7 linked regions of the Homo sapiens genome follow. The protein of the gene in region 2 purifies or fractionates together with the protein of the main gene of each other region. This does not show direct contact. Each region holds a gene or a part of one and is shown on either strand. Other genes may lie near its edges. The genes, in order: SRSF12, EDC3, DENND1A, ZBTB21, LRFN1, ZNF638 and ALDH18A1.

Evidence for each region.
Region 1: the proteins of EDC3 (region 2) and SRSF12 purify together in Homo sapiens (affinity purification with mass spectrometry, with the first as the bait; one large-scale study listed by BioGRID). This does not show direct contact.
Region 3: the proteins of EDC3 (region 2) and DENND1A purify together in Homo sapiens (affinity purification with mass spectrometry, with the first as the bait; one large-scale study listed by BioGRID). This does not show direct contact.
Region 4: the proteins of EDC3 (region 2) and ZBTB21 purify together in Homo sapiens (affinity purification with mass spectrometry, with the first as the bait; one large-scale study listed by BioGRID). This does not show direct contact.
Region 5: the proteins of EDC3 (region 2) and LRFN1 purify together in Homo sapiens (affinity purification with mass spectrometry, with the first as the bait; one large-scale study listed by BioGRID). This does not show direct contact.
Region 6: the proteins of EDC3 (region 2) and ZNF638 purify together in Homo sapiens (affinity purification with mass spectrometry, with the first as the bait; one large-scale study listed by BioGRID). This does not show direct contact.
Region 7: the proteins of EDC3 (region 2) and ALDH18A1 purify together in Homo sapiens (affinity purification with mass spectrometry; one large-scale study listed by BioGRID and IntAct). This does not show direct contact.

Annotation. Positions count from the first base shown.
Region 1 is NC_000006.12:89,101,072-89,104,571, forward strand, and holds part of SRSF12 (serine/arginine-rich splicing factor 12), read right to left. Parts: intron 1-3,500. UniProt on the Homo sapiens protein: Splicing factor that seems to antagonize SR proteins in pre-mRNA splicing regulation.
Region 2 is NC_000015.10:74,633,542-74,637,024, reverse strand, and holds part of EDC3 (enhancer of mRNA-decapping protein 3), read left to right. Parts: intron 1-1,398; coding exon 1,399-1,616; intron 1,617-3,483. UniProt on the Homo sapiens protein: Binds single-stranded RNA. Involved in the process of mRNA degradation and in the positive regulation of mRNA decapping. May play a role in spermiogenesis and oogenesis.
Region 3 is NC_000009.12:123,381,127-123,384,626, forward strand, and holds part of DENND1A (DENN domain-containing protein 1A), read right to left. Parts: intron 2,788-3,500; coding exon 2,529-2,787; intron 1,500-2,528; coding exon 306-1,499; 3' UTR 1-305. UniProt on the Homo sapiens protein: Guanine nucleotide exchange factor (GEF) regulating clathrin-mediated endocytosis through RAB35 activation. Promotes the exchange of GDP to GTP, converting inactive GDP-bound RAB35 into its active GTP-bound form.
Region 4 is NC_000021.9:41,989,861-41,993,360, forward strand, and holds part of ZBTB21 (zinc finger and BTB domain-containing protein 21), read right to left. Parts: coding exon 1,035-3,500; 3' UTR 1-1,034. UniProt on the Homo sapiens protein: Acts as a transcription repressor.
Region 5 is NC_000019.10:39,310,864-39,314,363, forward strand, and holds part of LRFN1 (leucine-rich repeat and fibronectin type III domain-containing protein 1 precursor), read right to left. Parts: coding exon 3,068-3,500; intron 1-3,067. UniProt on the Homo sapiens protein: Promotes neurite outgrowth in hippocampal neurons. Involved in the regulation and maintenance of excitatory synapses. Induces the clustering of excitatory postsynaptic proteins, including DLG4, DLGAP1, GRIA1 and GRIN1.
Region 6 is NC_000002.12:71,348,782-71,352,281, reverse strand, and holds part of ZNF638 (zinc finger protein 638), read right to left. Parts: 5' UTR 3,328-3,500; coding exon 2,011-3,327; intron 1-2,010.
Region 7 is NC_000010.11:95,636,212-95,639,711, reverse strand, and holds part of ALDH18A1 (delta-1-pyrroline-5-carboxylate synthase), read left to right. Parts: intron 1-2,275; coding exon 2,276-2,425; intron 2,426-2,514; coding exon 2,515-2,619; intron 2,620-3,500. UniProt on the Homo sapiens protein: Bifunctional enzyme that converts glutamate to glutamate 5-semialdehyde, an intermediate in the biosynthesis of proline, ornithine and arginine.

The sequences.
Region 1 (3,500 bases), on a different chromosome or scaffold from region 2:
GCACCCCAACCTGGGCAACAAGAGAAAACCTCCAAGACAAAAAAAAAAAAAAAAGAAAAGAAATAGTTAACTAAAAGATCATTAGAAAAACATCCTACCGAAATACAGTGTGAGAAAAGGAATTTTAAGAAATCCCTAAAAGAACACAGCAGATGTATAGCATACAGTCACACAAGCCAGAGGAAAGACTGAATAAGGCAGAAGCAATATTTGAAGAGATAATAGCATAGAATTTTACAAAACTAACAAAAAGCATTAACTCACAATTTCAAAAAGCTCAATAAACCCCACATAGGCAAAGAAAACTACACTGGGCACATCACAGTGAAACTGATGAAAACCAAAGTCAAAGAAAAAATCTGAAAACCGGCCGGGTGCGGTGGCTCATGCCTGTCATCCCAGCACTTTGGGAGGCTGAGGCAGGTGGATCACCTGAGGTCAGGAGTTCCAGACCAGCCTGGCCAACATGGAGAAACTCCGCCTCTACTAAAAATACAAAAATTAGCTGGGTGTGGTGGCGGGAGGCTGAGGCAGGAGAATCGCTTGAATCTGGGAGGCGGAGGTTGTAGTGAGCCGAGATTGTGCCACTGCACTCCAGCCCAGGTGACAGAGTGAGACTCTGTCTCAAAAAAAAATAAAAATAAAAATAAATCTGAAAACCTTGCCAGAGAATGAAAGACAAATTTCTTTCAAAGGAGCAACCACAAGACTGACAACTCACTATGGGTATCAGAAAAACAATGGAATGACATTTTTAAAGAGAAAAATAAAATCACTGCCAATATAGAATTCTATCCTCAGCAAAAATATTTCTCACAAATGAATTTTAAATAAAGATGTTTTCAGACAAAAGCTGAGATAATTCACTATCAGCAGATGTGTACTATAAGAAATACTAAATATTCACTGCCCTGGTACTTCTCGGTGAGCTGAAAGAGGAAAAAAAGAAATACTAAATATTCTTTAGACTGAAGAAAAATGATACTAGATAGTAACATTGAACTAGATGAAGAAATTTAAAAAGCTTTCTTTGGAGAATGATAACACCATGTAGAGCCTCTTCAATTTTTGGTTTTGTTTGTTTGTTTCTGAGACAGAGTCTTGCTCTGTCACTCAGGCTGGAGTGCAGTGGGGCGAGCTTGGCTCACTGCAACCTCTGTCTCCCGGGTTCAAGCGATTCTCCTGCCTCAACCTCCCAAGTAGCTGGGATTACAGGCACGTGCCACCATACCTGGCTAATTTTTGTATTTTTAGTAGAGATGGGGTTTCGCCATGTTGGCCAGGCATGTCTGACCTCAAGTCACCTGCCTCAGCCTCCCAAAGTGCTGAGATGACAGGCATGAGCCACTGCACCTGGCCTCTCTTGAATTTTTTATTATATATTTATACTGAAAATACATTGATGTAGAATATATTCTGGAATAAATTCACAGTCTTTTAGAAATTATTAAATTTCATTCATTTTGTAGACAGCTGTAGGAAGCAAAATGAAGAAAATGTCCTTGAAAAAAAATCCTAACATAGTAAAAGAAGGACGCTATAATATATTTGGACTAAAGAAAAGGGAGTTGAGGAGCAATTTTAACACTGTTCAGGAACATTTAGAGTTCTAACATACACATTCCTTGATATAAAGTTAACAAAGATTTACAGAATACCTTTTTTTACATTTTAATAATTTATTTATTTATTTGTTGTGAGACAGAGTCTTCCTCTGTTGCCCAGGTTGGAGTGCAGTGGTGCAATCATGGCTCACTGCAGCCTTGACCTACTGGGCTCAAGGAGTCCTCACACCTCAGTCCACCCTCTCCCTCCCTCCCAGTAGCTGGAACAGGTGTGTGCCACCACACGTGGCTAATTTTTTTTAGTTTTTGTAGACATGGGGGTCTCACTATGTTGCCCAGGCTGGTCTCTCAAATTCCTGGACTCAAGTGATCTCACCCTGGCCTCCCAGAGTGCTGGGATCACAGGTGTGAGCCACTGCACCTGGCCATAAGACAGTTTTTAAAATGAGAAAAACTGGTGTCAGGGAGGTTAAGCAATGGTCTTATAACAAGTACAAAGCAGAATAGCATTGCCCTGAAAGATGTGGTCCTTCCATCCCTGATACTCCAGGATGATTTGAGACAGTCAAGTATTATACTTTACTTCCACTAGAAGGCAGAAAATGATGTGAATATCCACCTTATTTAAATCAAGCAAGAGAAAAAAACTGGTTCACTAAGGCTGTAATGCATTTAGAAACAATCAATTTAAATTCTTTTTTTTTTTTTTTGAGACAGAGTCTCGCTTTGTCACCCAGGCTGGAGAGCAGTGGCGTGATCTCAGCTCACTGCAACCTCTGCCTCCCAGGTTCAAGCGATTCTCCTGCCTCAGCCTCCCAAGTAGCTGGGATTACAGGCCTGTGCCACCACACCCACCTAATTTTTGTATTTTTAGTAGACACGGGGTTTCGCCATGTTGGCCAGACTGGTCTCGAACTCCTGACCTCAGGTGATCCGCCCCCGCCCTGGCCTCCCAAAGTGCTGGGATTACAGGCGTAAGCCACTGCGCCTGGCCTGAATTTTTAGTAGAGACAGGATTTCACCATATTGCTCAGGATGGTCTTGAACTCCTGACCTCAAGTAATCCACCCGCCTTGGCCTCCCAAAGTGCTGGGATTACAGGCGTGAGCCACTGCACCTGGTCCATATAATTAATTTCTGTTGTGATTCACTATTATTCTAATAGAAATAAACTCCTGGCTAGCAAAATAAATAACTTGAAAATATCTTTTCCCCTGCCCCCAAATTACTATTTAATATGTCTTCTTCAATACTGCCATACTTGGAATTTATTCTTGATAACTTATCTTTTATAAGTAAATTGATTTACATTAACTTTAGTCAACCACCTTTCACAAGGGATTTTATTATATTTCTTTTTTTTTTTTTTTTTTTTTTTTTTGGAGAGACGGAGTCTCACCATGTTGGCCAGGCTAGTCTCAAACTCCTGGCCTCAAGTGATACTCCCACCTCAGCCTCCCAAAGTGCTGAGATTATGGCACCTGGACATTTTATTGTATTTCTTACACATTTAAACATTTTTAAAGTTGAAGATTACAAACTGTTGGGCACATTTAGGAAAATTTTATTTATCTAAAACTCATCACCTTTTTTTTTTTTTTTTTTTGCTTTTTGTTTTGAGACGGAGTCTCGCTCTGTCGCTCAGGCTGGAGTGCAATGGCGTGATCTCAGCTCACTGCAACCTCCGCCTCCCAGGTTCAAGTGATTCTCCTGCCTCAACCTCCTGAGTAGCTGGGATTACAGGTGCGTGGCTACCACACCCAGCTAATTTTTGTATTTTTAGTAGAGGCGGGGTTTCATCATGTTGGTCAGTTTGGTCTTGAACTCCTGACCTCGAGATCTGCCCACCTCAGCCTCTCAAAGTGCTGGGATCATAAGTGTGAGCCACTGCACGCGGCTGAGTATGTATTTTTTTTTACTTTTTTTTTCTGCTCA
Region 2 (3,483 bases):
GATACTGCTGGTACACAGTCCAGCCAGGCCTCTAATCCACATAGGTCCATTTCCAGTGCCCATATACTCTACACCTTGCCGCTGGGTGTGTGAATGCCATGCTCTGCTTCTTTTGATTGGGGGTGGGAGAGGTTCTCCCTGAGAGGAAGAACCCTTTTAGAGAACAAAGTGAGTCAGATTCCACAACTCTGCAGCATCCTCTGAAGGGAGCAATTCTCATCATATTTCCTCTAAATGCAGAAATGGGAAGGCGAATGGTTTGGTGTCTGGAATATAGAGTAGATTGTTAAATTCTCCAAAATGTGTTTGGGAATGGGGGCAGTTATGAAGCTCCTCTTAGCTTGACAACATCTTGTCATCTTCCTCCCTTTGGGAAACCGGTAAGTGACTATCATTGCTCTGCCACTAGGCAGGGACCTATGGCCTTGCCGTCCATCTCCTCCCTACATTGCTGCCCCGTGAGCCAACTGTGCTGCCTATGAGTTGGGCACAGCTCTGGGGCTAATCCTCTTTATCTCCTTATTTGTGGCTTCTCTGAGTCTAGAGGAGTCTCAGCTTTGAATAGCAGAAAACTGGAAGTGACAACTTCATCCAAGGCAGCTGCTAGCCTAGGAGGCCAGGTAACCCTTGGCCTGCTGCCTCCGCCATGGTCAGCACTGACTGAGTACCTTACCTTCTTTGTGTTAGGCACTGCTAAGTGCTGGGCATCCGATAATCTGCACAGCATCCTATGAAATAGATACTGTTAATGCCTGCAGCATTGCTTTCATTAACTTCAGTAAGCTACTAAGCTCAGTAAAGAGAACCATTGGCAACTGACTGAGGAGAATGGAGAGCTATGGTACTTGCTGTGAGCTTATTAGGAGTTGAGGAGAGGTAAAGGCATGAGCCAGAGTAATCCCAGCAGAGGTAAGTCTTGAACTGGATCTCCAAGAAAAGGCGGTTCAGAGTTTGGAAAGTGAAAGGCTTTCTGGGCAGGGGATGTAGTTTGAGCATAAGCAGGAAAGAGCCTTACAAGTGCAGGAGAGGATGAGACCAGCCCTGCTGGAGTGAAGCAGACACGTTGGGGAAGAAGAGCAGACAAGGCTGCAGAGGAACTATTAAGTGTTCATGGGTCAGCAAAGCGGTGTTGTGGCAACAGTGTTGTGTGGAGCAAGATCTGGGTGAACCACTTAGTGGGAGGACCCAGCAATGATGTGAGGTTGGGGTTTGGGACAACAGGAGTGCCACCCTATAGACCTGGCCTGCAGTGGATTTTGTCCCCCTCTGGAGCCTGGGACTTGGTGAGCAGTGGGTAAGAGATCTGAGACCAATAGGTGCTACAGGCAATTGTCTGGTATAGGGTGCAAGGGATTGGCAAGTATGTAGCTGATACTGCTTCTTCACCTTCTTTTCCAGGTTGAATCCCAAAAATGTTCACCAGAGGCCTACAGTGGCTCTACTGTGTGGACCTCATGTGAAGGGGGCTCAGGGTATCAGCTGTGGAAGGCACCTAGCCAACCATGATGTCCAGGTCATCCTTTTCCTGCCCAATTTTGTCAAGATGTTGGAATCTATCACCAATGAGCTGTCGCTCTTCAGCAAGACCCAAGGCCAACAAGTGTCTAGCCTCAAAGGTGAGCACTTAGGCAGGGCTGGGCTGAAGGCCTCCTCCCTCCTTAGCAGTTTGATGGTCTCGTCATGCCACCCAGTGGCGACAGGTGGAAAGGCACTACGTGTGTAAGGATGGTGCTTCGCCTCTAAGGAGTCTTAGAACAGTAATATACTACTTCCCATCCCCTTATGCTTCTCCCTCTCCAACTACTCACATGAAGAGCTGGGGACCCATTGGTCCATTCCACAAATATTCGTTGAACAGGCACTCTTCCTGATGCTAGGGATATGGCAACAGATTTTTTTAAATCCATTCTTCTGTGGAGCTTATATTCTGGTTAGGAGGAACAAAAAGACATGTAACATACTTGTGTAGTTGTAGTAAGTGATGTGGATAAAAACAAAGCAGGGAAAGGAGGCATGTTGGAGGACTGGGTGGAGAGTAGGAGACTTGGACATTTCAGGGTCAGGTCATGATGGGCCTTGGGGATGACCACAAGGATTTGGGCTTTTACTCTGGTGAGATGGGCAGTCATTGAAGGAATAAGTAGAGAAATGATATAATCAAATTTAGGTTCCAGATGATCATTCTGGGTGCTGTTTGAGAGTAGACTACACAGAGGAGTACAGAGAAGTGTCAAGATGCTGTTGTGATCATGGGAGAGAGAGATTATGGTGGCTAAGACAAGAGTGGTAGTGCCAGAGGTGGTGAAGGTAGTTAGTTTCTAAATCAGTTTTGGAGATAGAATCCACAGACTGGATGTATGGGGGGTGGGAGAAAGAGAAGAGTTGGCAATGGCTCCAAAGTTTTTGGCCTCAGTAACTGAGGTGCGATCACTGAGATGGGAAAACTTGATAGAGAAGGTTTGGGGAGGAACAGCAGAAGCTCAGCTTGAGACACCTATTGGATATGCAGGTGGAAATGTTGATAGGGAACGAGTTATATGAATCTGAAGTGAAAGGATTCAGCCTAGAGTTACAAGCCATAGGGAATATTTAAGCCATGAGGAGCCTGGATATGCTGTCACATAGGAAGAGAGTAGATACAGAAGTTGGAAAACTGAGCTCTTTATTTAGAAGTCAGGGAGTAAAGAGCCTAACCAAGGAGATGGGACAGGAATGGTCAGTGAGGGAGGAAGAAAACCAGGAGAGTATGGTAGCTGAAAGCCAAGTGAAGAAAGGAGCATGTGGTCAGTGTGTCAGCAAGCCCCGTTCTAGGTTAAGGTCAAAGGAAGACAGAATCGACCACTGGATTTAGCATCTCTGTGGAGGCTCCTGGTGAGCTTGATGAGTGGTCTTAAGTGGAGTGGTAGGGACAGAGTCTGACTGGAATGGGTTTAAATGAGAACAGCAGGGAGAAGAATTGGAGAGAGCAAATATGGCCCAGAGAAGGGACTCCACCAGAGGTCACATAGTGAGTCAAGGGCAAAGCCTGGACCAGAAACTTCACCTGCTAAGTCTCGGGCCAGGCTCCTGTGGGCACACAGAAGATAGGATGCCACTCTCACTCTTGAGAGCCTCATCACCCACAGGGACTCCCCCCGGTGGCACATTCTAAGCAAGGAAGTTGTGAGTCTCTAGCTGAGAAATGCTAATACTCTAGGCTGAGAGCTGGGAAGGGGGCCTGGTGTGGGTTCCCCTTGTAATTTTTAACATGATGCCCCCTTCCAGGCAGTTCTTCCTCTTGCTGCCCAAAAGTTTTCCTATCCCAGCTGCTCCAGGACACAAGTCTCAACGACCATTAAGTTTGGTCTGATTTATGCTATTCTCAGTTTAACTTCTTAGGCCAGTACAGGATCTACATACTTGTTGAGACATCCTTTTCTAATACTGTCCCAGAAGCCTGGTTAGAGCAGAGGAGCCTGGGAGAATAGTAATAGGTTCCCTCTT
Region 3 (3,500 bases), on a different chromosome or scaffold from region 2:
GCAATATCATTGGCCCAGCTGACCTCTTTAGTGCAAAACCCAATCAAGGGTGCCGAGGAGAGGCAACCGCGGGGTGGGATGGGCACTCAGGAACTGGGTTGATTCCCAGGCTGGAACTGGTGCCATTCCCCAGGGCCAGACATCAGAGATGGGCAGTGTGGAGGGGAGGAGGGGGCAGCAGAGAGGGGTCCCATCCCTTCCCACCAGCAGAACCTGGGCAGAGAGAGAGTGGCGGGGGAGCCTCGGAACCGCAGCAGTGGACGGACCCTCGGGCCTCGGTGCATCCCCCACCCTCAGGGCCCGGCTCACTCGAAGGTCTCCCACTGCTTCCTGAGCTGCTCCACCGAGTCTGGGGCCGGGGCCAGGGCCGGACTCGGGCTCACGTCTTGCTTGGTTTTCTGTAACAAATCCTCAAAGGGGTCTCTGGCCTGTTGAGGAGCAGAGGGCTGCAGTGTTGGCTCCAGGCCTTGAGGGGGCCTGGGAGGCAGAAGCGGGGGGTCTCCAGGCCTCAGGGCCAGCCCCTGCTTGGTCTCAGCAGCCCTGGCACTTGAGCGGGCCAGGGGCAACGTTCGGATCCTCGACGGGGCAACTGCTGGGGGACCCAGCGGCTGTAGGGGGCTCGTGTGGGTGCCCATGGGCATCTGGCCAAAGAGGTTGGGCATGGAGAGGGCGGAGAGGTTGGGCTGAGACCTGTGAGGGGCACAGAAGCCAGCACTGGACAGCAGGAGGCCGGACGCAAAAGCCGGCCCCAGGGAAGCTGGAGGGGCCCCGAAAGGCCCGGCTGGTGTGGAGACCAGGGGCAGGGTGGGTGGGGCTGCTGGCATGGATGGGACAAAGGGGTTGAGTGGTGGCTGTGGGAATGGGGTGGGTGTCCCTGCAGGGGGGAAGCTGAATTGGGGGGTGAATGGGGTGGCTACATTCGGGGTGGCGGGGCGTGACGGGAGGGTGCTGCCTGACCAGGCTGTGCTGAGCGGGTCCAGGAGGGCGAGCAGGGCGTCACTGCTCGTGCCTGCAGCCCCGGGGCCAGGGCTGAGCGGCTGGAGCAGTTCAGTGGGGCCTTGGGGGACAACACCAGGCAGGAGCCCTGGACTCAGGGCAGCTCGCCTGTCCCGATCCGTCTGCAGCCGCTCTGAGACGTCACCAAGTGCGGCGCCGGCAGCCTGGAGCTTGGCCGGGCGGGGAATGGGCGGTGGAGGCACGATGCCCAGCTCTGGGGTCTTCCTGCCTTGGGGCCGGGGGATGGTGATGCTGCCCAGAGTAGGGGTGGGCACCTCCTCCTTGTCACTGGGGTTCAGGATGCTGTCCCGGTTCTGGGGCCTTCGAGGCAGGGCCAGGGAGTTTCCGAGCAGGGCTGAGGGCTTCTCAGGGGAGGCAGCTGGGGGCTTGCTGGGGATGGCCATGTCGTCCTGGCCCAGGCTCCAGAGCTTGTTGTACGGGTGGGTAAGCTTCAAGGCCACTGTCACCCCGCGGCTCCTCTCACTCCCGCCCAGATCCAGCCTCTGTTGGGAGGGAAGGAGGGCGGCAGTGACCACGGGCTGAGTTGGGACATATGTGTGCCCATTCCCACACCACTTCTGTGTGCTGAATGTGTGCTGGGCCTAGTTGTGTGGCTGATCAGCTCCTCGGACTTGGAACAGCTGAGGGCTCCCCCAGGTTACCAGCAGAGGACCCACGTGTGCTGGGACTCCAAGCCTGTGCTCCGGGAACTCAAGACAAAGCTCTCGTCCCTTTATGCCAGTGGCGGTTGCCAAGGAGTTTTAGGAAAGTGACTCCAGCTACCGGCTGGCCCTTTTTACTTTTTAGATCGCAGGCACCCGCAATCACCTGTAAGCCCGGGGGCGCGAGTGAGACTCAGGGCCTGGTAGGAGGCACCTTGGCTGGGGAGGAAGGAGGAGGCCAAGTTGGAGTCCTGGCTCTGCCACTTGCAAGCCACACGGCCCGGGTGCCAGTCCCTTTCTCCTGGCCCAGGTCCTCGTTCCCAGCAGGGAACACTCATGAATGACTGGAGCTCTGTGAACCCCACGGTGTGACCCAGTGATGCAAAGTCAGAAGACCCCACTTGCAAGTGAGGAAACTGAGGCACCGAGCGGGGATGTGATGGATTAGACGTCACAGTGGGAATTACACACTGATTTGCATTCATAATGCAGAGCCAAGAACTTGCATCCACAGGCTCTGCCAAGGAGCCCTGGCAGGGATGGACGCAATCCCGGTTCCAGCAGGGGCTGCAGCCCTGCCTGGGGGTGCGAGGAGAGTGGCTGGCAGCACCCGCCCCCCCGTCTGATGCACACACAGAGTGGGGCAAGTTTCCATCGGGCTCTAGCATCTTCTCCTACCGTCACTGTTAGGGTGGTGTGGGCCCCGGCACCCTGGGAGGTGTTTACAGTCACACTGACCCTGAGCATTGGCTGAGGGTCTTGGAAAGTCACTGTTTCTCCCTTAGTCTCTTCCACTGTCACATGGGGATCCCACCTCGTGTGCGGACAGTGCCGGCCCCCGGCCGATACCCTCCCTTGCCCATGCCATACCTGATAGTCAAAGGTCCCTGGCTGCTCCCTCAGGTCTTTGGGGGCACGAAGGTCCTCTAAGCTCTTGGCCTGGCCCAGTGGCTGCAGTGCGGCCTCCATGTCCAGGTTGCTGAAGACGTCTTCCAGAAGGTCGATGCTGGCAGCCCGGTCAGGGGGAGCTGGGACAGGGCCTGTGGACTTCCGCACTTGCTGCTCTGGACTCTCTGCCTCGTCGCCTTCCGCGCTGTCTGACTCCCTGAGTGTCCGATACGGCTGCGGCCTGTCGGGGACAGAGCAGGCTGCACTCTCCCACCCAGGCCTTCAGGGGAGGAGCAAGCGGACTCCAGCCCAAGCACATTGAGGGCTTGAGGGGTGCACGCAGGGGCCTGCGGGACAGGAGAGTGTCCCGGGGTCTCCGTGAGGGCAGGAGTCTGGGAGGCTGCGAGGGTGCAAGCTGGGCATGCCGATGGGCCTGGGGCTGTGAACCAGGGCAACTCGCTTTGGCTCTCACTTGCACTCAGGGGACCCATTTAGTGCCCCCCAAACTACAGGTCCTTTCATAAAACTGGCTACTGGGCTTGTGAGCCATTCAGACAAGGTGTGAGGAACAGACAGGACTGGAAGGGGGCTCACAGGCCAGCAGTCATGCTCCTCTTGCTCCCGCCCTGCTCTGCTGTTTGTTTGGTGGCCTAGGCACAGCCACAGTCAGGTTCTGTGAACAGCCCATGGGGAACTGGGCTGGGGAAGCTCTCCAGGGGAGCTGTCTGGGCCTAAGCTTGCCCTGCTAACCTTGGTTCCACCTCTGGTCATGCTATTTCTTGCTGTGGGACCTTTGGCAGGTCACTTAACTCTCTGAGCCTCAGGTGCTCAGGTGGTGGTGGTGGTTACATGAGCAAATGCGGTGCCCGGCACACAGCAGACACGCACGGGTTGGTTACAGCATCCATCGCCCACCAGTGAGCACGGCTGTCACACAGGCTCTTCTGCTAGCAG
Region 4 (3,500 bases), on a different chromosome or scaffold from region 2:
ATCTGGAAGTAAATGGTAATTTAGAATTTTACATCAGCTGTGCTAATTCTTGAGTGTCTGGGATCTATGTAAATATATGTCCCGACCTTATTTGTTACACTAATGTTAAAATCAAAATTAGTGCCATATGGTTAGCTTTGTTTTTTGTCCTAACTACACTCAGATTTTCAATTTGTGACAGCATAAATCAGAGGAAATGAAATATGTGCAGTCCTTCAAATGCTGGTCTGAATTTAGACTGTGGTGCAGTGTACATGTAACATGGTACAAGTTTTTATAACAATGTCTATCACTACTGAAGCCCTTATAAACTGACTGTAGGGGACTTCCATAAATTGTTTTCATTTCCCAGGTCTTCCTTAGAGTTTAACTATCATTTATTATATTGACTGAGAGCAAGTTTTTGTTAGTTTATAAAAATCTAAGTGTTACTATTGCTGATTTAAATTTCTCACAATTTTCATACAAAAAGAAGTTTTACATGACCACAAAATACCAAATATTTATTTTTATCAAGTGTCAGGATAACTTATTAAAGTTGAGATTTATCTTTTATTGCTAAAGTAGTCTAAGATATAAATCAATACTGCAAACTACTCCACTTCTTCCTATTTTGGACTTAAGAACATGGTTAAGATTTAACTAGAACTCAAGTGTCTAAAATAATTAAAAGAAGGAATACTTCGACAGTATTCCACTAATCAATAAAAAACCAAAAACCTCAATTAAATGATTATACTGACACCATGGAATGAGGAACCATGCACACAATCAAGACTAATCCAATTTCAACATTAATGAAATCAAACCATCTTGTTCTTGTAAGGTCCAGAACCACAATATTTTAAAAGCTGTATTTCTAAAGTTAAGGACATTACTAAGTAATTATCAATTTGCCTCCAACTTAATTTCAAGCGTAACAATCTCCAACCTTTATTATTCTTGTTTAAAAAATATTTTGTTTCTTATGACACATTTCACAATTCAGGTTGAAATCTGGGGACTGCCTCCCATAGGTAAAAAGTGTTGGTCTTTCAATTGTGTGTTTGTTCGTGACTCCAAAGACTAAATGCAGTCTTGAATGTCCTGTGGCAAAGTTTACACATAAACTGTCTTTTAAATGTGATTGCTGAAAGGGGTGGGGCATGGTAAAAAAGGGTGTCTGATTCTTGGGGCACAAACAGTTTTTCTGTGGCTGGAGTTGGGTTTTCGGACAGGCCTGTGGGGCTGTCAGGCTCCAGAGGCTGGATCTTGGGCAGTGGTGGTGGCGGTGGCAGAGGTGGTGGAGAGGGAGAGTTTGTGGGAACAGGGCACACCTCAGATTCCTTATGTGCCGATTCCTCTGAAGCCTGAGACATGTGCGATTGGAAGTGACTCCAGAGTCGAAAATTAGTGCGAAAAGCTTTGTTGCACACGTGACAAATAAATGGTTTCACAGAGCACAGAAGCTCCTGGTGACGCTCCAGCTGCTTATGCACCGTGAACATCTTCCCACACTTCTCGCAGGGCCACAGGCTGGCTTCTTTGCTAGGACCCGCTTCTTTGGGGGCTGTGCTGGCCTCGGGTGCCTCTTCTTCAGCCTCCTCCACAGGCTCCTCTTTGACTTGGATTTTCAGTTGCTTGGAAAGACTAAGGTCTTCGGGAAGACAAGAGGAATCTTCCGAGTCGAAGTTAACTTGTTCTGAAGAATCACTGAACACGTTGTCGTCTTTTGTGGTGACGATGTGGTTTACTTTGTTGGGCTCAGGCTGGGATTGGGGCCTTGAAGAACCAGTCACATCACCATTGTGGTCCAAAACGGGCAAAGAAAAGTTTTCGGTGGGTGCCATGTTGTTCTGATTATGGACTTCAACCTGGTGCCGCCAGATGCTGAAAGAGGACTTGAAGGTGCGCATGCACTCGAGGCAGGTCAGCTTCTTATACTCACACTTGCTCTCGTGTTCTTGCTTCAGCTCGGGCGAGAAAAACCTGAGGCTGCAGTAAGGGCAGACGGCCGCGTTCCGGCACAGCCGCTCGTGGCTTCCTTGCTCTAGGAGAGAAGAGAGCTTAGCATTACAGAGGCGGCACTGGTAAACCTCCTTGTTTTCTACTGGACTTGCAAGAGGAGCATGCTCTTTTGGTTTAGCAACTTTATTTACTCCAAGGGGTTTTTCTCCTGGATGCATTTTTATATGCTGCTTAAATTGAGAGAGAAAGCGGTACGCTTTTCCGCAGTAAGTACAAATGTAAGCTCCTTTGGCTCGAGATCTCAAGTTCCTCTTGATGACTTGCTGTGCTTGGGAGCTACTCTGTCCCTGAAAACCAGGCTTGCCGCGCCTTAACTTAATGATCAGGGCCTTCTTAATTTCTCTCTCTCTCACTATGTCAATCAGCTTTCTTTGGAATTTTTCATCCAAAACAGCATGTGAACTAGAGGCTGGTGATGGGTTCTTCACTATGCCGTGTTGGGTCTGACAGTGTGTCCACACTTTGAAGTTGGTGTGAAACCTCTTGTGACAGATGTCACAAGCGTAGGGCTTTTCTGGGTTATGGTACATGTTAACATGACGGTGAAGACCTGCTGTTGATCTAAAGATCTTAAGGCAATGTTTGCATTTAAATTTTTTGTTTGGTCTCGTCCCCTCCAACTCACCAAATTCGTCTTTATTCAAATCAGAATCTGGAAAATCTGCATCAAGGAGAGTAGGGCTTGAGCCTTCCTCAAAATTATCTTCTGACACAGGAGACCCGTGCTCATTCACCTTTAACTTCTTAAACGGCAATCTTCGGTCCGCTTGGAACCTCCTTTTTGCTGGGAGTCTGCTCATGTCTTTTTGGTCATCTTCTGTTTTCAGAGACAGGTCTCTTGTGACCGACGAAGATGAGGCAGCTGCTGTTGTTGCCGCATCTCCCACAGTGACGCGGATGATGTCCGAGGGGTCCGACAGCGGGCTGCTGGGCTCAGTCTTTATGCGCACCTCAGTCACAGGGGAAGCTCCCTCCCTGTCTGTTGACTGAGAAGCACTAAAGGACCTGAGGCGATGCGGTTGTAGCACTTGAGGCCTGTCATCTAGGGCTGTTTTTTCACTACAATCTTTTAAAGATGACTTCTGAGATAAAGCACACAACACATTCCCTGGTGCATCACTGGACACCGAAGATGATCCCTGGGAAGATTTCAAATCTATGGAAGGTGAATAGACAGGAACCTGGCTATCCATCGACAATGACCGTCTGAGGAGACTCTTAACAAGTGGGCCACTCCTGTCAATGCTTTGGTTTCCAGAACCAGATCCACTGGATGGGATCACTAAGCCTAACTTTGAATAGTACAACAAGTTTCTATCTTCACCTTGACCATTTCCTTTGTTAGTTTCTTTTAATAGATAGGGAGTCTCTGATGAGCTACAAACAGACAAAACAGGTGGCCGTGGTCTCTTCAAAGCCAGCTCTAGAGCTTTTCCTTTTGGAAGCTGACCACTCACACCTGGTTTATCATCCATAGCTTCTCTGTCTTGCAG
Region 5 (3,500 bases), on a different chromosome or scaffold from region 2:
CTCCCACCAAAAGACTTCCAATCAGGGCCCCGCCCCTTCATAAAGGTCCACCCACTTCTCCAACTCCACTCTACCCACCCCTGACTGCCATTTCAAAGACCACTGCCACCCACCCCAGCCACCCTCGGCTGCCCTGGCTTTAAGCCTTCCTCCTCCTCTCTTCATCTCTCCTCTCCAGAGCCCTGGATTCCACTTGCTCCTTCCCCTAAATAGCCAGTTGCTAGGGGCTTCCCCCACCCCTTTTCAAGGACAGAGGCTGGCTCCTTAAGAAAGCTTCAGCCCAAGTGTCTCTAATTGGCTGCAGAATTAAAGCAAGCAGCTAAGCAGGCTTCTGGTTGGCTGCCACCTCCGCCCATGACAGCGTGAGGAAGTTAACCCCTGCGGCACCATAGCATAGGAATCTGCAATGGGGGTTGGAGAACTGGAACTGGGGCCCTACAGGGAAGAGAAGAGTCCCAGGGTCTGTTGCCCAGCTGGGGACAGGGGGCCATCAACATCTGCATCCATGCAGGGTCTGGGGGCTTGTGAACCTCCCCCACCCCACCATGTGGTGGCCATGGCTCAGAGCAAAGGAAAGAGAGGGACAGAGAAGTGGAGAGTCACAGAAGCTCAGAATTATTTACAGAAATATATTATCCATCTCCCTTCCAAGCAGTGGGTGCCCAACAAATGTGTGTCAGTGTATAAAGGACAGCTTTGCTACTTTCTGTGTGACCTTGGGCAAGTGACATCCCCCACTGAACCTCAGTTTTTCTGTCTTTGAAATGGAGAGGGGGTCATCACGCCTTCATAGCGGAGCTGGGAAGATCAAGCTTGGAAGTTCGTTGTGAAGGTTTGTGTTTTGTTCATTTGTTTGTCCTCATGTTTGTAAGGCTGGGCCAGGATCTAACCTATCTCAGTAGGCCCAGGGCCCAACACAAGATGGGCACACAGTAGGCATCTACTCAGTGTTTGGGACCAGAATCAAAAAGAGAGGGAAATGAGGAAGACAGAGACAAAAGAAAAGGGAGGCTTTTTTTTTTTTTTTTTTTTTTTCCAGAGGGAGTCTCGCTCTGTCACCCAATGGCGCAATCTCCGCTCACTGCAACCTCCGCCTCCCAGGTTCAAGCGATTCTCCTGCCTCAGCCTCCTGAGTAGCTGGGATTACAGGCACGTGCCACCACATCTGCCTAATTTTTGTATTTTCCGTAGAGACAGGGTTTCACCATGTTGGCCAGGCTGGTCTTGAACTCCTGACCTCAAGTGATCCGCCCGCCTCAGCCTCCCAAAATGCTGGGATTATAGGCATGAGCCATCGCGCCCGGCCAAGAGGCATTTTTTTCATTCAACCAACACTGGGAAAGCACCTACTATGTGCCACACCTATGGCCAAGAAAACACTGGAAAGGCAGAGATGGAGGCCAAGAGGCAGGTTTCTCGGTGAAGATCTGACAGCCAGGAGCTGGGGCTCTCCACAGGTAGGGAAACAGCTCCAGCCCCGCTGGCATCTCCAGGTGAAGCCAAGCAGATGACTGAAGCATTTAACTGGTGCTCTACAATGTGCATGAGGGAGGCAGAGCTAGAAGGAGAGACATCCATGTGGCAAACTACCATTTATCAAGTGCCTACTGTGTGACAATTCTGTGGCAGAGAGCCATACTAAAAAACTACCAAGATGGGCCAGGTGCAGCGGCTCACACCTGTAATCCCAGCACTTTGGGAGGCCAAGGCAGGAGGATCACTTCAGCCCAGGAGTTCAAGACCTGTCTGGGCAATATAGCAAGACCTCATCTCTACTAAAAATTTTTTTAAATTAGCCCAGTGTGGTGGTGCACACCTATAGTCCCAGCTACTCTCAGGAGGTAGGAGGATTGCTTGGAGCCCAAAAGTTTGAGGCTGCAGTGAGCTATGATCATACCACTGCACTCCAGCCTGGGGTGACAGAGCAAGACCCTGCCAAAAAAAAAAAAGAAAAAGAAAAAAAAAAACTACTGAGATGGAGAGACATGGCAAGGCCAGGACTGCAACTCATAGTGTACTATGGACCACGACCTACTGGGCTATAAGCTCCCTGAGGACAGGGTCTGGGTGGTTTCCCTGTGTCCCCAGCACCCAGCTCAGGAGTTTGCACAAAGCAGGGGCTCTGTGCCTAACGAGGGCAGAGAAGGTAGAGACAGACAGAGAGGTGAAAGGAGAAATAAGGAGGCGATGGGAGAAAATAACTCTTTTTTTAAAATGTCTGTTGACACCGTATGGTCTGTCCCCACCAGGGCAATGGCTTCAAACCCAAGTGAGGGTGGAAATAACATATTTTTCTCATACGTTTTGTTTTCTGTTTCTGTAATGTACCCAATGTGTTGGTTCAGTAGTACTGGTATATAATTTATAAATATAAATGTCGCTGTAGGCTAGGCACGGTGGCTCACACCTGTAATCCCAGCAATTTAGGAGGCCAAGGCAGGCGGATCACTTGAGGTCAGGAGTTCAAGACCAGCCTGCCCAACATGGTAAAATCCTGTCTCTACTAAAAATACAAAACTTAGCTGGGTGTGTTGGTGGGTATCTGTAATCCCAGCTACTTGGGAGGCTGAGGGACGAGATTCGCTTGAACCCGGGAGGCGGAGGGTTTCAGTGAGCTGAGTTCGTGCCACTGCACTCCAGCCTGGGCAATAGAGTAAGGCTCAGTCTCAAAACAAACAAATAAATAAATGTCACTGTAAATGTGTGTGTGTGTTTCATGCTCCAAAATGTTTAACTGAAGAGGTGCACAATCAGATTGTTGTGGGGAGCAGTGATATCGACCATGAGCCCCATGAGGGCAGGGTTCATGCTGAGCTCAGTCACTGTTAGGACTCCAGTGCCCAGCCCTGGTCGGGTTCATGTAGGTGCTCAGCGAATATTTTCTATAAGCACGAAAAACAGAGACAGTGAGAAATAGAGAGAGGAGACAGGGCAAAGGAGGGCGGGAACAGCTCTCACAGCCATCTAGAACCCTGGCTGAGCAAGAAGGCCAAGGGAATGGGCAGGTGGGAGGGAGGGTCCCCCTGGGCTTGGGAGGAGGCCCTGGGACTGCAGCACCCGCACCCACCTGTAGACGAGGGAGTCATCAACGGAACTGTTGTACTGAACCTGGTACATGCGTATTCCGGGCACAGGCCTCTGGGCTGGCCAGCGGATGAGCACGGAGTTCGAGGTGAGCTCGGCTGCCACGAGCCGACGCTCAGCCGCAGAATCGTTGGCACCTGGTCTGCCCGGCGTGGCGATGTCAGAGGAGCCGGGCTCGGTGAGAGGCGGCGGGGCAGCCGGCGGGGGTGCCATCAGAGGCAGAGGTACCACGCACACCTCCACGGGCGCCGTCGCTTCCCCAGCAGCATTGGAGGCGATACAAGTGAAGGTGCCACTGTCCCTCAAGGTGGTGATGGTCACATCCAGCGTCCCGTCCCCCCGGACCCGGGTCCGGCTGGAGTTCCCCAGCAGCCGCCCATCAGGTGCCACCCAGTGCACCACCGGCTCGGGGTCAC
Region 6 (3,500 bases), on a different chromosome or scaffold from region 2:
GGTCTTGAACTCCTGACCTCAGGTGATCCACCTGTCTCGGCCTCCCAAAGTGCTGGGATTACAGGCAGTGAGCCACTGTGCCCGGCCCCCTCCTCCTCTTTATACAGGCATATCTAAAGCCTCAATTCAAGACCCATCTTCAACCTACTCCATGAAGTCTTCTCTCCCACATCATTCTAGTCAAGACAGACTTAGTGCATTTAGTAACTGACATTCCATTAGTCTAACTAGGCTATAAAAGTCTTTTGATGTCAGGATGCATATTTATACTTATTTTTAAACACATACTGTTACAAATACAATAGTTAAAATAATTAAATTGGCAAATTGGTAATGATTAAATTGGTAAATTGATGATGCTGGCCTGAGTGATACATGCCTGAAATCAAGACAGAAATCTCTGTCCCCTACAGCATATCCAAACAAGTTAAATCAATCACAAAACCACTTGTTGTCTTCTAATTGTTTTAAATGTCTTGGGAGCATAATTTTTCTCCCCAATAAGACTGAATAAACTGCTTAATAACATCTAAAATTTTACACAGTTCCTCATTTCTGCCCCAGTACCTAATTGGAGTCAAGTACAAAACTGGTATCCATAAGTACATACTAAATTAAATGTACACCTTTTCTACTCTACAGAATACAAAACTTCAAGTTCTTTATTTAAAGATGTATTTTCTTGGATTCATTATGATTAATTAAAAGTTCAAAATCAATTAAAAAAAATTATGTGGTATGCCCAGTCACAAGAATACAGACAAACACTCAATTCACTACTTAGGCCAGGGCTACTTACAGATTACAATTAGGTGATATGAATTATTCTAAGACTTTCCCTTGTAAGGACTTTGCTATCCCTTCTGATGGAATAAGGCAACTATTATTTTAATAGAATTTGGCACATCTGGCTAAAATGGGGTAGAATGCTGCTTTCTTTTGCTGGAGTTAACCTTAAGAAAATACCAACAGATCTAATTATCAGATTCATGTTGACGAAAACCTAGTGAGTAAATAATGAAAAGAAAATCGAAAGGCAGCACTGGAAGAAAAGAACAAGAGCGTTAACACACAGATTTTTAAGCCTAAGTATACAACCAATTCCAGGCCATGGCCTTGAATCAAAGCTTTTTCCCATGTTAGTATATTCTCTTCTGACCCTTTACAATCTAAATCTATAAATCACATTAGTAAATAGAAGAAACAGTGATTGCCAACCATACGTAAGTAAATAAAATTTACTTGGAAATTCCTGCTCAAATCTACCAATGATTACGACTGAACAGTATGTTCTACATTATAGTACACTTCACTGCCTCTGCAAAATACTTCCTTCTAACTATACTATCAAACTACCTAAATCATCTTTATTTTTTAAAGATTTTTCTCTACAAATTTCTATCATTTTACACTATTTTCTGAGTCCACAGCTGGTCCCAGAATAATTACTGCACCTTGACTTATTTTTGCTATGAAGTTATTTTAGAAAGCTTCTTCTCAAAAAATACTAAAAATCACTAGTCTACATAAAGTCAGGAAATATTTAAATCAACATTAATTGTCTTTATCCCAAGACAGGTGTATATGTGCAAGGCTATAATATACTGTCTCTTAAATGTGTGCATTACAAATGGGTTATACCATCTCTTTGTATTTTTATACTAACAGATCCTTTTAGAGAAAGGTGATTCCATGTGACATTGTCTTGTAAGTACGCAGCTTATGTTACATAAATTTTATGTTGCGTAAGTGGGATAACTAAAAGTTCAAAATAAATGGACACACTACTAAAATATGGTGTGCCCGGTCATAGGAATACAGTAAGCCTAAAATTCAATTCAGTACTAAGGCCAGGGCTACTTAAGATTACAACTATGTATTGAGGTTGCAATTAAAATTACCTTCTGCCATTTCCTTAACGCCTAGTTAACAAGCAGCATACATATCAGAATTTAGAGAAAACTGGCGCTGAGCATCATTATACAGTGATCTTTTTTTAAAAACACTCACCTTCAAATGACTACATTCTACGTTACACAGAGAACACAAATGTGGAAATATTCTTGGAGATGCTGCATAATAATCATTCATCATAGAAGGAGTTGGAAGTCTCTTCATCTTCTGGGCATCAGCATGTGAAAACTTTGGTAGCCAGGATGCTTTCACAATACCAAAGGGAGACCGAATGGGAATGTCAGCCTGTGACTGGTAATTCTTTTTACTTCCTCTTGATCCAACATGTACGTTAGATGAATTAATCACAGGTTCATGTGGGATCCGCTCTTGCTGGCTTACAGATGAAATTAATTCCGACGAAAAAGGTTGCTGGTTCATAGATGGAGGAATCAGAGATTGACTCATTGTCTGGCTAACTGTTTGGTTAATGGATTGGTTGACGGATTTTATGGGTTCAAGGACTGACTGTCCTCCTGAAATGTGTAAGCCTGACATCTTGGTTCCACTCTCAACTGAGAAAAAGGACCGATTATTGGAGGACTCACCGGGGAAGTCCATTTGGCGAAATACGTCTTCAACAGGAAACATAGAATTACATATCACATTTGGATTGGGAACAGATGCAGAAATGTTCTGCTGTGACTGAAATTCATTCTCGACCTCATCAGTTGGAATTTCAGGATCATAAATACGTACTTCAAGTGGATCTTCTGTGTAGCCATATTTGCTTGCATGCCCATAATCGATCACATTACTTGAAACTGCTTCACTACCAAGTGTTTCTTTATTTCTGCTCTGAGAAGGTAAATTAGGTAATCGGCGCCCCATTTTTCGCATTCTTATATCCCTCAAAATTAATGGCATATTTTCAGGAGTTAGTTGTTCATCAGGATAGCGACTAAGTTCTTCTAGGTCTTCATTAGATAATCCAAAACTTGCTAAGATACTTGAGGCACTCTCTTTTGTATAGCGGCTCTGTACTTTGGGACTCTGCTCTGTAACCTGTGTTACAGAACTCTGTTTCACTGCCACTGATGCAGATATATGAGGCTCATCATCCCACCGGCTACCATGAGGCTTCCCCTTCTTCTGTTGTGCTTCATGAAAATCCAGTTTTTCTTTGGTCAATCTTGGATCAGTTCTGTGTTGAGTTACCTGAACATTCATTCTCTGTGGCCCCATGTTCTGATAAGATTCATGGCCAGCAAATCTGTGTGGAATTCCACGTGCTCTCCCTGCTGGGTAAAATCTTGGGAGACCCATAGATCCAGGCCTCATAAATGGTCCTGGAGGCCTCATCCCAGAAGGGTTAGGTGCTCGTGGCCTTTGAAGTGGAAAGTCTCCTCGAGGATTAAACCTGGGTCTCGACATGGCTATTTTCAAGAAAGCCTGATTTAATAAAGTATAAGGTGGTGTTGAACCATGTGAGGCAACGGCATTCAGCTGCTGAAGCGCCAACTGAGTCTTAATCTGAGCAAAGTGCAAAGGAGATGGGCCCAACAGAAGTGGGTTTGCAATGCCCAGGTTCAAGGAATTCACAAGTG
Region 7 (3,500 bases), on a different chromosome or scaffold from region 2:
TTTGCATCTCAATTTGAGCAAGGTAAAAAAAAATTGGAAAAATATGAACACTGGCTATTTGATATGAAGGAAATCATTGAAATATTCCAGATAATGGATTTGTGGAGAGAGAAAGACATATAATTATATATTATATATAATATATATGATTATCTTTTAGCAGTTATTACTGAGCTATTTACAGATGAAATAACATGTCTGTTGCCTGGAATTTGTATTAAAACAATGGTGAGGGTATAGAGGGGTTATTGGAGAGTGGGAAGTTGGCCATGAGAGATAGTTGGTGAAACTGGGTGGTATGTACATGGGGATTTATAATACTATTCTCAGCACTTTGGTTAAGTATTAAATTTTCTTTTTCTTTTTCTTTTTATTTATTTTAGAGAGAGGGTCTTGCTCTGTCACCTAGACTGGAATGCAGTGGTGTAATCATAGTTCACTGCAGCCCTGAACTCCAGGGCTCAGTTGGGATCCTTCTTCAGCCTCCTGAGTAGCTGGGACTACAGGCACATGCTACTTGGCTATTATTTTTTTTAATTTTTCATAGATATGGGGTCTTACTATTTTGCTCAGGCTGGTTTCGAATTCCTGGCCTCAAGCAGTCGTCCCACCTCAGCCAGCTGAAACTTTCTGTGATAAAATATTATTGTCGGGGCCAGGCACAGTGGCTCACACCTGTAATCCCAGCACTTTGGGAAGCCAAGGTGGCTACTCAAGGGGCTGAGGTCAGGGGGTTGCTTGAGTCCTGGAGGTCAGGGCTACAGTGAGCCATGATTGTGCCACTGTCCTCCAGCATGGGTGACAAAGCAAGACTGTGTTTCAAAAAAAAAAAAGTTATTATTGTTTTAAATCATGGTTTATCATAGCTGTTTGTTAAACAGCTGGACCAGTTAAAAGGTTTCAGACATCAGAAGGAAAGGACAGTTTAGGAATATTGACTTTATTACATCTTGAGTCTTTAATTTTTTCATGTAGGTCTGCTTAAGGTAGGAAACAAAGTGACCGCATTTGGTCTTGGGCAGACAGAGCAGAACAAGGTCAGCATGTGCCCCTGGTGTAGGCAGAGGCAACCCATAGGATTAGACATGCCACCAGAACAGCCTCCTTTACCCGGGTTAAGCCTTAGAACCTGAGAAGCCATCTACTGAGTCTGCGTTGCATTTCCTACCTGCGGACTTTTATTCTGGGCTTCATTTCTTGGAGGAACTAGGCCTTCTGCATTACACACTCCCTGCAAATATTAGGTTGGCACAAAAGTAATTGTGGTTTTTGCCATTACTGTCAATGGTAAAACTGCAATTACTTTTGCACCAACCTAATACAGTCAAGTCCTATAGATGTCAAACTTGGCTACACACCAGAATTTCCTCATTAAAAATGTCTTACTTAGGCCAGGCATGGTGGCTCATGTCTGTAATCCCAATGCTTTGGGAGGCCGTGGCAGGAGGATGGATTAAGACCAGAAGTTTGAGGCCAGCCTGGGCAACATAGTGAGACTCTGTTTCTACAAAAATGTGTTAAAAAAGAAAAATTAGCTGGGCATGGTGGCATGAGCCTGTAGTTCCAGCTACTTGTGAGGCTGAGGCAGGAGGATCACTTGAGCCTAGGCAGCCAAGGCTGCAGTGAGCCACATTCATGCCACGGCACTCCAGCCTGGGCGACAGAGCAAGACTCTGCCTTAAAAAAATTTTTTTCTTAGGGTGTTGTTGTTGTTGTTGTTGTTGTTGTTGTTGTTGTTGTTGTTTTTGAGACAGCATCTCTCTCATTCTATTGCCCAGGTTGGAGTGTGGTGGTGCGATCATGGGTTACTGCAGTCTTAACCTCCCTGAGCTCAGGTGATCCTCCTACCTCAGCCTCCCAAGTAGCTGGCATGCACTACCATGCCTGGCTAAATTTTGTACTTTTTGTAGAGATTGGGTCTTGCCATGTTGCCTGGGTGGTCTTGAACCTCCTGGGCTCAGGCATTGTGCCTGCCTTGGCCTCCCAAAGTGCTGGGATTACAGGCATGAGCCACCATGCCCAGCCAATTGTTTTAATTAAAAAATAAATTAAAATGTCTGATTTTTGTCTGCCACCTGCTAAATAGAAATTTGAGACAGGATGTAGGAATCTGTGTTTTTACCAATCTGGCTGATTCTTCCAGAGCCAGCCACATGCTGGTTCATAAACCAGCATTTGGGATCTACTCGATAGCCCACCCTACCTCCATCCCTTGTGAAGAGATGAAAGAGACAGTACGGTAACTTACAGTCCCCTTTCCTTTCTCAATGCCCAGGTATCAGTGCTGCAGAATCAGGGCAGAGAGATGATGCTGGTGACCAGTGGAGCCGTAGCCTTTGGCAAACAACGCTTGCGCCATGAGATCCTTCTGTCTCAGAGCGTGCGGCAGGCCCTCCACTCGGGGCAGAACCAGCTGAAAGAAATGGTGAGTGCTGCTTCCCCACACATTGAAATGGATCTTCAGGTCTTCTTCCCTCATTCCCTACCACACCTTGTCTCATTGGTATATTACAGGCAATTCCAGTCTTAGAGGCACGAGCCTGTGCAGCTGCCGGACAGAGTGGGCTGATGGCCTTGTATGAGGCTATGTTTACCCAGTACAGCATCTGTGCTGCCCAGGTGAGAGGCTGGGCTTTGAAATGGGTGTGGGACCTGTGAGGGTGGTTGTTGTGGAACAAAGGGGTCTGGAGCCAGACTATTGGAATATGGTGTCAGCTTCATCACTTGCTACTTGAGATCTGAAGAAAGTTTCTTTTCCTTTTTGTGCCTCAGTTTCCTCATCTGAAAATGGGGATAATATCAGTGCCTATTTCAGATAATTTTTGGAAGGGCTCAGTGAGAAAATATATGAAAAGCATTTAGTATAGTGTTTGGTACATAATACATTGTCAGTAAATATCAGTTCTTGTTACACTAATAACTTAGGATTCCAAGTGCTAACACTTCTGAAGACAGAGAAGTTAAATGTCTTTATTTCACTGGCTTCTTTGATTTCAGGTGGCTTGCTTCTCTTTGCACCTGGTTGGTTGCCTTTTATAGCAGATATTTATTAAGCTTTGAAGGGAAAGAGGAATGCTGGTGATTGGTTGGTTTTTCACTCATTCAGCAAATATTTATTGAGCACCTATGGTGTACCTAGCAGTCTTGGGCATTGGGGATACTGTGGTGAACAAATCAGACATGATTCCAGTCCTCATGGGACTTACGAATTTTTGGTGGCTACCCCTAAATGTTCTAGAACCTTCTTTCTACATTGTTTCATTTTTACCTAAATCTCCTGAATTTTTTTGAATTATATTCTTAATCAACTGTACAACTACACACTAGAGACATCTCAATAACAGTCACTTCAGGAAACAACTGAAAAAAAAATCTAACTCCCAAATTATTTTATTTTGAAATTCCTTTACCTGTAAAGATGTAAAATAGCTGTTATTTTATATTATGGATATTATTTTACATGTACACTACATGCACAGATGTTATTTTACACAGGTGAT